3 separate regions of the Homo sapiens genome follow, and regions 1 and 2 are each linked to region 3. The links come from fine-mapping of genetic effects on gene expression. A gene starts in region 3. Each other region holds a variant in brackets. All regions are shown on one strand. Distances are between the middles of the regions. Region 1 has its middle 2.9 kb from the start of CLDN25. Region 2 overlaps USP28 (ubiquitin specific peptidase 28). Region 3 holds the start of USP28 (ubiquitin specific peptidase 28).

What was found. PIP is the estimated chance that this variant, and not a neighbour inherited with it, causes the effect. A credible set is the group of variants that fine-mapping cannot tell apart.
Region 1: its variant is the best candidate, but not a certain one, in a credible set for the expression of USP28 in monocytes (Quach 2016, PIP 0.90).
Region 2: its variant is the best candidate, but not a certain one, in a credible set for the expression of USP28 in sigmoid colon (GTEx, PIP 0.56).

Annotation. Positions count from the first base shown.
Region 1 is chr11:113,780,577-113,784,817 of GRCh38, reverse strand. No RefSeq gene overlaps it. Among named protein-coding and RNA genes, the nearest start is that of CLDN25, 2.9 kb to the right of the region's middle. The variant AT/T (reference allele first, on the strand shown) is at 2,118.
Region 2 is chr11:113,800,088-113,804,328 of GRCh38, reverse strand. USP28 (ubiquitin specific peptidase 28) reads left to right here. Exons shown (of 26, transcript NM_001346252.4): 23 at 452-531; 24 at 1,048-1,171; 25 at 2,651-2,846. Among named protein-coding and RNA genes, the nearest start is that of CLDN25, 22 kb to the right of the region's middle. The variant G/A (reference allele first, on the strand shown) is at 1,845.
Region 3 is chr11:113,873,471-113,877,711 of GRCh38, reverse strand. USP28 (ubiquitin specific peptidase 28) reads left to right here and starts at 2,140. Exons shown (of 26, transcript NM_001346252.4): 1 at 2,140-2,267. The coding sequence starts at 2,211. RefSeq lists enhancers at 920-1,581, 1,632-1,881, 1,871-2,165, 3,752-4,241 and silencers at 1,902-2,061, 2,082-2,441.

The DNA of each region.
Region 1 (4,241 bases), 93 kb after region 3:
GAATGCCTTCACTCCCAATGGTGAAACTTTCAAACCCAAAGATAGTTTGATGGAGAAGATAGCACCAAGTTCCTAAACTCTAACTGCATCAAATTTGGTGAATCCCTAAGTTATATTTTCCTCCACTACCTTGCACAATACTTCTGGCTTGAAATAGTGATTGATTAATGTTTCTTTCTCTTTCTGATACATATGACTACACACCTCTCCATGTGTAACCACAATAAAGAAATGTTTTTGATGTGAGAATAATCTGCCACAGATCTATATGACAAAAAGCTGTGTTGAAGTTATGATTTAATTAGTTCTATTTTTATTTCTCATTATTTTCCCCTTCAAAGCAGGTGGCTAACAACAGTGGCAGTTTTAGGTGAACAGCATCTCCTTCCTCAAACTCTTTCTCTAAATGTGGATTCCCACTAGACTGCAGATCACATTCCCTCTCAGGGAAGGACATGCTGTTGGCCACATGGCCAGTATGTCATCAAGAGTTTCTACCCACACCCATTTAAAAAATTCCTTTTGTCCTTTATAAAGAGAGTTGGGAAGACAGAATATTTTCTTAACAAATCTTTAGTGTCCATTTCTCTGCAGAGGAAGCCATAATCACTTGCTGATGAAAAAATATTAGCACCTGCAAATGCGGGATTCAGGTGAGGGCTGCAAGCCACCAGCAGGAGCAGGTGAGCCACCTGGCAACAAAGACCCTGTTTAAACCTCAACATAAGCACAAAGGAGGGTTTTATTTGACGGTCTTTGGTTTTTCCATCGACTTCAGTGAGAAGCTTTTTTTTTTGTTTTTTTTTTTTGAGACAGAGTCTTGCTCCGTCGCCCAGGCTGGAGTGCAATGGCGCGATCTCGGCTTGCTGCAACCTCTGCCTCAGCCTCCTGAGTAGCTGGGATTACAGGCACCTGCCATCATGCCCAGGTAATTTTTGTATTTTTATAGAGACAGGGTTTTACCGCGTTGGCCAGGCTGGTCTTGAACTCCTGACCTCAGGTGATCTGCCTGCCTCGTGCTGGGATTACAGGCATGAGCCACCACGCCTGGCCTTTGGCGAGAGTTTTTCCTTTGGTCTGGTAGATTGTCTAGGCAACCCATCCCATGAGGCCATAGGATAAGGTGAAGAAAGACTGCCATGGTGCCAAACCCTGGCTTCAAGTCTTGACTCAGTTAATTACTCACCATGGGCATGTCACCTAAATTCTCGGCATCTCATTCTCCTCAGTAGCAAAACTAATAATATCTGCTCTTCCAAAACTCAAAAACATTTCAAGATATGTTCAGTAAAACTACCAAAATTTGTAGAAGTGCTTTGTACACCTGCAAGCCCAACACAACCATGTGATAAGGAAATTTCACAGAGACAAGTCATTAGACAAAGGAGAGCAGGTTACTGTTGCAGTCAATTGGAAGCCAAGCTCCTGTTCCCGGACCACGTGCTTGGCTTCCCATGGTCCTGAGAATAGAGACTATGTTCCTTACTGAGGCCTACAAGGCCCTACAAGGTCTGGCTTCTTCCTACTTTGCCAGCTTCACCTTATGCGTCTTCATCTCCCCTCCTCATCTGGAACTGCTACCCACCCTTTATTGTTCAGCCAGTAATCGCTTCCTTTGAGTACTGATCCGTGAATCACTGACTAGGTTAAATCCCTCCTATTGCATGATTTTTTTATGTATATATATTTTTCTCTTTTTTACATTCATAAAGGTTGATTAAACTATTGGATGATCTTATAGAACCATGTCCCTTTCCAAATTTGTAAAGGTTGTCAAAGTTACTATTTACGTTTATTTGAGTGATTTTACATTAATATTTGTCTCCTGGCTGGGTGCGGTGGCTCACACCTATAATCCCAGCACTTTGGGAGGCCGAGGCGGGTGGATCACTTGAGGTCAGGAGTTGGAGACCAGCCTGACCATGGTGAAACCCTGTCTCTACTAAAAATACAAAATTAGTGGGGTGTGGTGGCACACACCTGTAATCCCAGCTACTTGGGAGGCTGAGGCAGGAGAATTGCTTGAGCCTGGGATGCGGAGTTTGTAGTGAGCCAAGATCGCACCATTGCACTCCAGCCTGGGCAAGAGCAAAACTCTGTCTCAAAAAAAAAAAAAA[AT/T]TATCTCCCTAATTTGCCTGAATGAGGGACAAGAATATATTTTGTCTTACCATTTTATACTGGTTCCTAGCACATGGTCAGTGCTCAATAAATATTTGTTAAGTGAGTGAATAAATGATCAGATGGATGAATAATAATGAAATTATTCTTTCATGTAGACCCTGGAAGGTCAAGAAAATGCTTAGATAATTGAGCCTCACCCCTGATTGAAACTTTGTCCAAAGAGCTTTGAAACTTTATTGAGAAGGAGTAGCTAATAAAACAGACATTGGAAACCATTTTCTGACTTACCAGACACAGAAAGCCAGAATACACCTTTGATGCAAACTGGCCCTTTGTACTCAGAGCTGTATTTGCCTAGGGATCATTTTGATTTGTGCGTGCCAAGTAGACATACACAAAAGGACAGGCATAAAAGGAGAAGGAGCTTTCTGGAGAAACTGTGACTTCAAGAGAAATCTGCTCTGGGTAAGAAGGTAAGAGTTGCAGAAGATGAAGTTGCACCTGTGCAGACTCCATTTCAGCAGGAAAAAAAAAATGGCATTTTTCTAAGGAGGGAACTGTCCTGGGCTACTTTGGCAAATTTTTTTACTCTTGTGTCATAGTCTGTGTATTCTTGCTTGAGCAATGGCTATCTCGTGATATTGGGGCTATTTTATCAGGAGGCGAGAGGCGTTGTGAGACCTCAGAGCTGAGATGACAAAGCACAGCACCAGCTTGGGGAGGGCGGAATGTCCCTGGTACTGTGAGGAATGCAGCACGCCTCTGAACCTGGAGAAGTGACCTACTTAGGGCATTAGGAGCCATCCCCTTTAGCTGCTCTCCTGAGGGAATTGTTGGCAGGGCCAATGGTGATTCTTGAACTGATTACAGGAGTGGAGGACAGGTGGCAGGGAGAGGAACAAGGTGGATGCTGCAGGATAATTGCAGCTGACAAACAGGTTTATGAGCAACAGGAGGCTCCTCCTTGAGGACCTGCAGAAATGCCAGAGGAAGACCTGAGGTGGGGTAGTCAGGAGAGAGCCTGCCATTGCAGGCAGAGCAAGCAAAGGAACTTAGGTTATCGTTATGGAAGGGACTTGATTTGTAGCCACAACCTGGGTAGGTCTGCTGACACTCAGGTTAAAATTTAAGAGGAGGCCAGAAGTTTGATAACAGCCTGGGCAATATAGCGAGACCCCATTTCTACAAAATATTTTAAAAATTAGCTGAGCTTGGTGGCTCATGCCTGTAGTCCCAGCTACTCAGGAGGCTGAGGCAGGAGGATCCCTTGAGCCTAATAAGAGTTTGAGGCTGCAGTGAGCTATGATCATGCAACTGCACTCCAGGCTGGGCAACAGAGTGAGACCCTGTCTCAAAAACAAAAACAAACAAACAAAAAAACACAGCAAAACAAAATTCAAGGAGTTTATACTGTGATTTTGCACTTGGTAAAAGACATTTCTGAGAAGCTACTTCTTTCATATACATGACCACATTGGGCAGTATTTGGACACAGTCATTCTAAGGTAATCACTGGGTCCCAGTTTGCTTGGGACTTTCCTAGTTTTAGCACCAAAAGTACCTTGTTCTGGGCAAACCAGGAGGGTTGGTCACCCTACCACTCACTCAGACTGACTGTTAACCTTCAGGTGGGGAAGACAGAGTAGACTGCTCATCGCCTCACAATGTAGCAGAAACAAGCCTATGTCTCTCCTTTGGGATATTAAGGATCTATAAAACAGCAAAGGTATATTGTGAAGTTGTCTTTCAAATGGTACACCTGAGGCTGAAAATGGACACAAAGAGAATTTCTGTCCTAAGATGCTGTTCTGGAACAATAATTCATTTTCCTTTGCCAAGGTACCTTCTTCAAGTTTTATTTTTGTAACCTATTCAGAACAGTAAGTGCCTCTTCACACTAGATTTTCTCTGATGGTTGCAATTTTGTAATATATTTTTCCTTAGTAATAAAAGAATCAAATATGTAATTAAGGTTATGAGTTTTTTAAAGCATTTTTATCTAAATAAAATCTCAAATCAGAAAAATACATTTGTTAGACACTGTGCCCTGATTTTTTATTCTGAAATGAGGACTACCATATCATCAAGACAATCACATCCTTGATAAGTGGGACAGTGAC
Region 2 (4,241 bases), 73 kb after region 3:
TTGCATCCCATGTAAAACAATGTTATGTACCACCCAAGGTGTATTCACCACACTTACTGAACTTGAACTTGCTCTGTATGACTAGAAATGTCCGTGTCCTTCCATATTTTCAATATCTGGATGGTTTTACCAGTCCTAAAGAGGTCATTCACTTAAGCTAGAGCTGAATATCTTTTACATAGCTGTTAGAAATTAGGATAAAATCCGAAGCTCGTAGGAAATAAGTACTTCTGTTACTCAAGTGAAAGGAACAGAACATTGAAAATTAAGGTCAGTGGTAGACTTTTATTTTAAATGTTGAGTAGGTTTTTATCTGAAAGCTTTTGTTTGTTATTTTTGTGGCTAGCCAGATGTGCTCAGTAAATATTTGTAATGAATTTAAAACTTAGATGGGAAGGACACTAACAATCTATTATGATCATGATTATTAATAATCGTCATTCTTTTTCAGAAGTGGCATGAAGATTATAGTTTGTTCCGAAAAGTGTCTGTGTATCTCCTAACAGGCCTAGAACTCTATCAAAAAGGAAAGTATGTTGGCCTTTTATTTTACCAAGATTATTAGTCAGGATGCTGTTCTCTGTAGATGCCTACCTGGGAATACTAAGAGTCACAGCCATGCATAACCTCCCTTGTCACATACACTAGTGTGCCTCTTCTCTTGCAGTGCTTTGGTTTTGCTCTAAACATCACACATGGTTTTTCATCCTTCAAATGATTAGATGTATTAGCTGCGAGATAATATTGTGCCAGGCTGTCTTTGTGATCAATGAAGATGAACTCAGAAAATGAATTTTTGAGTTGACATAGACCCTAGTGAGCATTTCTTGTTTTAGAGATGGGAAAACCTGAGGCCTAGGGAAGTTTCATATTTGCTTTGGATGGCTAGGCCAATTTGTAGAAGAGATGAGACTGGCTACGGTCTTTGGTCCTTCACTTTTTCAGAATTGCAGCCAAGTAGGTTCTTGAAATGGGGAAAAGTGAGGTCTAAGCCCTAGATTTTAGTAAAAGAGCACTCAGCTGTTGTTTATCTCCCATTTTTCTAAGGTACCAAGAGGCACTTTCCTACCTGGTATATGCCTACCAGAGCAATGCTGCCCTGCTGATGAAGGGGCCCCGCCGGGGGGTCAAAGAATCCGTGATTGCTTTATACCGAAGAAAATGCCTTCTGGTTTGTACTGTTTGTAAAGCCTTAAGGTTTTTTTGTTGTTTACCTCTGCTCCTTGAAGCCAGGAAAATATATGGCTTTCAAAACAGACTATCTCCAACAGGTTGTAGATTTCCCCCCAAAATTCTCATGAACAGTTTTACATTGGAACAGGTTTTTTTTCAGTTACTTTTAGTGAATGTCATTCTTCTTCAATGATAACTGATAGAAGTTAAGATGAGAATCAGTCATCCCTCTGTGTGCCCTTCATGTATGCCTGCATTATAGATTTTATCACATTGCTTTCCTACTAGGTTGTAAATTCCTTGAGCTCAGATCCTTTTCTCACTCAGCCATTTCCTCTGTGCCTGTCATGTAGGAACCATGTAATAAATGTGTGTGGAAGGAATGCAGCATTTTTTCCATGTTCACATTTAAGCTGGTAGACTTAAAGTTTTAGTGACTTCTGACACTCCATTTTTTTAAAATAAAGGTAGGAACTGTAAGAATTGGTCCTGCTGTTCTGATAACATCATTGTCACATACTAGTGAAGACTAACTCTCTCCTGGCCTGATTTGCACTGTATAACTACATGGAAAGGCAGACCTACATCCCCTTGCCTCCCCAGGGGTTTATGTGATGTGTGTCCTTTGGAGAACTGTAAAGGGGTGGCCTGCCTTCAGAGTGTGGGCTTGT[G/A]TGTGTTTTCACCAATACCCAGCAAATTTGCCCTTCACAGAAGTCAGGCCAATATTTCTACCACTGCCTTTACCTTGTTCATACCGAATGGGTGAGATTAAGTCATGACATATACTCAATAGCTTTATTTTCTGATTTATACTTTGACATCTGTATTAGTTATAGGTGTGGCAGGGCCACTTTGAAGCTGAAAAGGGATCTTGTTGGTTTGATGGATCTGAATTTTATTAGAGCCATGTTTTTATATTTTAAATCACCAAATAGATTGACATTTTGAATATCCTACTCAGCTTCTGAAGTAATGCAATTATAGGGATTTAGACTCTTTCCATTATTGAGTCCCAACCCCTAGTGTGCATCAGAATCATATAGGGAGCTTTCAGACAGTCGTGAAGCTCAGGCCTCTCCCTAGCAATTAAACCAGAATCCCTGGGAAGGGCCCTGGGCATCAGTGTGTCTTCTGCAGGTGATTCTGATGCTCAGAGGAGATAGACAACCAGTGAACAGGTCTTTGGTTGAAACAGGTGTTAAGCATGACCTTGACTTACAAGTTTAGGCCAATGGGTCATAAACTTTACAGCATTAGAATCACTTTGGGAGCTTTCATAAAATCCCAGTGTCCCGGTCATCTAAACACTAATTAAATCAGCTTATCAGAAGTGGGAACCAGGCATCAGTAGTTTTTAAAGATCCCTAAGTACATCCAATGTGCAGTAAAGTTTGGGAACCACTTGTTTAGACTGTTATTAAAGAGATATTTATCTTTTTCAGACTCTTCCCCACCTAATTCTACCTTTTATCTGTAGGAGCTGAATGCCAAAGCAGCTTCTCTTTTTGAAACAAATGATGATCACTCCGTAACTGAGGGCATTAATGTGATGAATGAACTGATCATCCCCTGCATTCACCTTATCATTAATAATGACATTTCCAAGGATGATCTGGATGCCATTGAGGTCATGAGAAACCATTGGTGCTCTTACCTTGGGCAAGATATTGCAGGTATATGCTCTTGGTAATAATATTCTGAGGTTTTGAGAATTGTAGAAATTTCAGTGTTCTCACTTGATAGCACTGGTTGCCAAACCTTTTTAAGGAATTGGAACCTTCTAGCATATAAGTAAATTAAAAATGGATCTGCTCTATTGAAACAAGAGGAGGGAGCCTGGGCCTCTGCCCCTCTTAACCTCCCTTTAGCTTCCCCATGACTGCCAAATCACCTCCATGGGCAACCAACAAGCCTGGTTTGAAAAAAGTCACTGCTCTCCAGGAATGTCAGACTTCCATTACTCTCTCATGTGCCAAAAGATGAACTCTTTTATAGTTTAAAAATCAAAATCTGACTGGGTGCAGTGGCTCACACCTGTAATCCCAGCACTTTCAGAGGCCGAGGTGGGCAGATCACCTGAGGCCAGGAGTTCAAGACCAAGTCTGGCCAACAAGGCGAAACCCCATCTCTACTAAAAATACAAAAATTAGCTAGGTGTGGTCATGGGCGCCTGTAATCCCAGCTACTCGGGAGGCTGAGGCAGGAGAATCACTTGAACCTGGGCAGCGGAGTTTGCAATGAGCCGAGATAGCACCAGTGCAATCCAGCCTGGGCCACGGAATGAGACTCCATATCCAAAAAAAAAAAAAAAAAATCATGCAGAGTATGGTTATGGGAGGGGTGCCTTGATGAATTTTTTCTGTGGCTTGAAGTTATATAGCATATTAACTATGATGACTTCAAGATTAATTAGTGGACTGTCCTTGCTTGTTTAAAGCATCTTAAGGAGGGAATGTAAAGCTGGTTGTTTTTAGGTGAGTTCAGTAGACTTGGAAAATTGTTATATATTCTGATATGAATCCTCTTTGTTAGGTTCTCACTGACATAGAGATACTCTATTGATGGGGCTAGGCACAGTGGCTGACACTTGTAGTCCCAGCACTTTGGGAGGCCAAGGTGGGTGGCTCACTTGAGCCCAGGAGTTTGAGACCAGCCTGGGCAACATAGTGAGACCCTGCCTCTACAAAAAATGAAAACTTAGCTGGGTATAGTGTAGTTCTAGCTACTCAGGAGCCTGAGGTGAGAGGATTGCTTGAGTCTGGGAGGCCGAGGCTACAGTGACCCAAGATCATACCACTGCACTCCAGCTTGGAGTGAGACCCTATCTTTAAAAAACAAACAAAACAAAAAAGGCCGGGCGCAGTGGCTCACGCCTGTAGTCCCAGCGCTTTGGGAGGCTGAGGTGGGCGGATCACGAGGTCAGGAGATGGAGACCATCCTGGCTCACATGGTGAAACCCCGTCTCTACTAAAAATACAAAAAATTAGCCGGGTGTGGTGGCGGGCACCTGTAGTCCCAGCTACTTGGGAGGCTGAGGCAGGAGAATGGCGTGAACCCGGGAGGCGGAG
Region 3 (4,241 bases):
CTAATACAAAGGATTATAGGTTTTGACAGCACTTACACACAATAAACATGCAATTTCCTAAAATGAATGTGTAAAGACAAATAAGGGTTGCTCCAGAGACATGGTAAATAAAGCATTCTAGCAGTGTAGAAATAGGCAATGCTGTAAATAAGCTAGACTCAGAAATCAATGTGGGCTGGGCGTGGTGACTCATGTCTGTAATCCCCAAATTTTGGGAGGCCAAGGCAGGAGGATTGCTTGAGACCAGAAGTTTGAGACCATCCTGGGCAACACAGTGAGATCCCATCTCCATAAAAAAGACACAAAAATTAGTTGGGCATGGCACATGCATGAAGTCCCTGCTGCTTCAGAGGCTGAGGCAGTTGGACTGCTTGAGCCCAGGAATTCAAGGCTGCAGTGAGCCATGATCTCACTACTGTATTTCAGTCTGGGTGACAGAGTGAGACCCTGTCTCAAAAAAAAAAAAAAAAAAAAAGAAAACCAGCATCAACCTGAAATCAACCTGTTCTACAGTGACACCCAGGTTGAGGCCATAAACACAGTCACTCATGAGGAAAGGAAAAATGGCAGAGCCACATACATAAAATGTCCTACTACTCGCAGACACAAACACAGTCAGCCTGTTGAATGTGGAAGATTCCAAGTTAGTATCACCGCAGCCATGCCAATCTGCCAGTTAATCTGCCAGGGGAAGCGGATCCCTGTATCTCCAGGTGGTGGAAGTTGCAGGAGTCCTAGTTCAGGCCTCAGAGAGTAATCTGGCCTCTCCTGGGAGCTGCACCTGACCTGTACCTGTTTCCTTTTGTCAAAAACTGCGCCCGCATGCAGACTAGGGAGGCCTGCAGGTGAAACATAACAATCCCAGCGACAACAATGCCAGGAGTATAGGAAAGGCCACCGTCCATGTTAAATTCACACTTAAAAGTGTAGCTTGAGAGTCAGACCAGACCAGGGCAAGGGTGTAGGTGCTACTCTTAAAAGACGCGCTTCCACACTCAGCCTCTACGCAGATTTGGGACACCCAGCAGCCTGTCAAGTGGGTTTGCCATCATAACACATTTGTATCTTAAATGTGAAACATGGTTCAGTAATCACAATTCCCACACAGTTGTTGAAAATACAATTCAGGCCTGGCGCGGTGGCTCACGCCTATAATCCCAGCATTATGGAAGGCCGAGACGGGCGGATCACCTGAGGTCAGGAATTCGAGGCCAGCCTGGGCAACATGGTGAAACCCTGGGTGTGGTACAGCGTGCCTGTAATCCCAGCTACTCAGGAGAATCGCTTGAACCCAGGAGGCGGAAGTTGCAGTGAGCCGAGACCGTGCGGCTGCACTCCAGCTTGAGGGGACAGAGTGAGACTCCGTCTCAAAAAAAAAGAAAAAAAAAAAAACAAACCGAAACCAACCAAACAAAAAACAATTCAATAGGAGCACCTGGTCTTTTAACATGAAATCGTAAATATCTGGCTCAAACGTAACAAAGTAACACAAAATTTTAGTTTGAACTTCTGAAAATCGAAAATGGAAAAACTGCAATTTTCCTTATCATGCCCAGGTTAAGAGCATCAGGGTTAAGGGCACCAAGCGGGACACCCATGAACGGAGGCTTTGGTCCGTTTGGTTAGCTTTAGACAAGCGACTGCATTCATCCTCCTTCTCTCCTTAAAGATGGTGAACACTTCTTCATGTCATTGGAGTTGGAAATGGCTACAAAGCCTGATGGGAAATCCTTTATTCCACGGTCATTCGGCAGTTTCCCACGGCGGGGGAACAGTTTTAACTCGCCCGTGGGGAGGGTGGAGCCGGAGGTCAGTCCTACAAATGAGGTTTTGAGGGCAGAGAGCGGAGAAGACTCAGGAACGCGGCTCCCAGGATTCGCAAACCCAGTTCCCGGACACTGGCAGCGCGGCCCGCAGCCTCCACCGGCTGTGAAGCTGACCAACAGCGACAGGCGGGGCCGGGATCACGTGACCGACGTCTGGTCAGCCGGGCGTGCGCGGGAGCACGCAGAACTGTTCGGCCCCGGGCCGCGCGCCTTGCGTGCGCGCGCATGCCGGGGGCGGGGCATGTGGGCCAAGCCTCCGGCGCGCGCTGCGGGCGGGGGCGGGACGGAGCGGGGTGGAGGGCGGGGGCGGGGCCTAGTCCTGAGAGGCTGGGCCGGCGGCGGCTGCGGCGGGAGACCGGTGACCCGCGGCTGGGCGCCTCGGCCATGACTGCGGAGCTGCAGCAGGACGACGCGGCCGGCGCGGCAGACGGCCACGGCTCGGTGGGCTCCGCGGCGGCGAGCGGGAGCTGGGGGCGGGCTCCAGGCCCTGAGGGGAGCGTGCGGGGCCTGCAGGGCTGCGGGTTGCGGGCTGCGGAGGGCGCCCCGGCCGGGCGGGACAGGGGGTGCGCCCGCCAGCGTGGGTGAGAAGGCCAAGGGCTCTGCGGGGCTCGGGCCGCGGAGATTGAGGACTGCATCTTCGCGTCCGTGGGCGAGCTGAAGTTGTAGGGGGATTTCCAGATTTTGGAAAACCAAATATAAAGGGCTGGACGTGGGGTTCTCCGCCGCAGGGATCAGTAAGGTGAGCCCTCCTGGGCCCCGTCCGGGGTGAGAAACTTCCGAAAGCGGCAGCGTTGGTTGGTTTTGTTTTGCTTTGACTTTTAAATCAGTTTTATGGCGGCGTTTTTAAAAGGTTAAAGCAGACCGAAGTTATCTCACTTAAAGTCCGGAATTAATCACCGTCTTCTATAAGACCAGGGGTCCCAGTTACCACCACTTCCCTCCCTCCCAACCCGGCTTTAAAAACAAAACAGCGCAGCCTCCCCAATTATTGCCTTCATCGCTCTAGATTTTTAAGGAGGGGGAGGAGCTGCGTGATGAATAGAAAGTCTACTGATGATGATCTCCTGTTCCCAATGTCTAAGAAGATTGAAATCAATATAAGGACTTCTGATCTAAGAATCTGGTGAGAGTGAAAGAACCCTGGTTTGAGAGAAAAGCTAATGTCTGTATGAAGAAACTTGGGAAGAGGGCAATTTGAGCATGTCTTCTAGTGTTACTTCGGAATGTTATAACTTAACACCACCTCCTCACCCCTCAAGTACTGCACTTTTTCAAGAGAAAACGGGAAATCTGTGCCAGTTGTTCAAATACGAGTTTGGAGATGAGAAACTATATTTGTCGTACAAAGCTGGCAGACAGATACCCTCAGGTGAGAATCCTTTTATACCTTTTTACTCTTTTGTCTGGAAGGCCAGTAGTATTTAGCATGGAGACACTTTTTTTTTTTTTTTTTTTTTTTTTTCGACAGAGTCTCCCTCTGTTGCCTAGGCTGGAGTGCTGTGGCGCGATGTCGGCTCACTGCATCCTCCGCCTCACCCTCCTGAGTAGCTGGTATTACAGGTGCTTGCCACCGGCCCGGCTAATTTTTGTATTTTTAGTAGAGTCGGGGTTTCACCATATTGGTCAGGCTGGTCTCAAACTCCCGACTTAAGGTGATTCGCCCGCCTCGGCCTTCCAGAGTGCTGGGATTACAGGCGTGAGCCACCGCGCCCAGTCTGGACGCACTTTTTTTTTTTTTTTTTTTCCAGACGGAGTCTCACTTTGTCGCCCAGGCTGGGGTGCAGTGGCGCGATCTCGGCTCACTGCAACTTCCGTCTCCCGGGTTCAAGCGATTCTCCTGCCTCAGCCTCCCGAGTAGCTGGGACTACAGGCGCGTGCCACCACGCCCAGCTAATTTTTGTATTTTTAGTAGAGATGGGATTTCACTGTGTTGGCCAGGATGGTCTCGGTCTCTTGACCTCATGATCCGCCCGCCTCGGCCTCCCAAAGTGCTGGGATTACAGGCGTGAACCAGGGCGCCCAGCCTGGATGCGCTTTTTAAAACTCATGTAGAAAAAGATACTTCCAGGTCCTGGGCTCCGAAACGAAAGTATCATGCACTGACTTCTAATGGAAATATTGTTAGATGTTCACAAGTGCCTATTGAAATGTGTCAAGATTTTTCTCTGGCTTCAGAGGTCAGTTCTATTTGTTTTTAGCACAGTGATTTAAAAACATGGGAAAATTTTAGTTTGGAGACTATCATATTGATTTAGAGAAGAGACTATTTTAAGGGAGAGAGAAGTCATATTTAAATTTGTCGTGGCTCAGTCATTTAAGACCATGTGCCTATTAATCAGTGGCATCTTCATTTACCTCTGCCGCAGTTTGAGTAGTGACCCTATTTCAGCATTCTCCGTTTGAGACTGTGTGTGA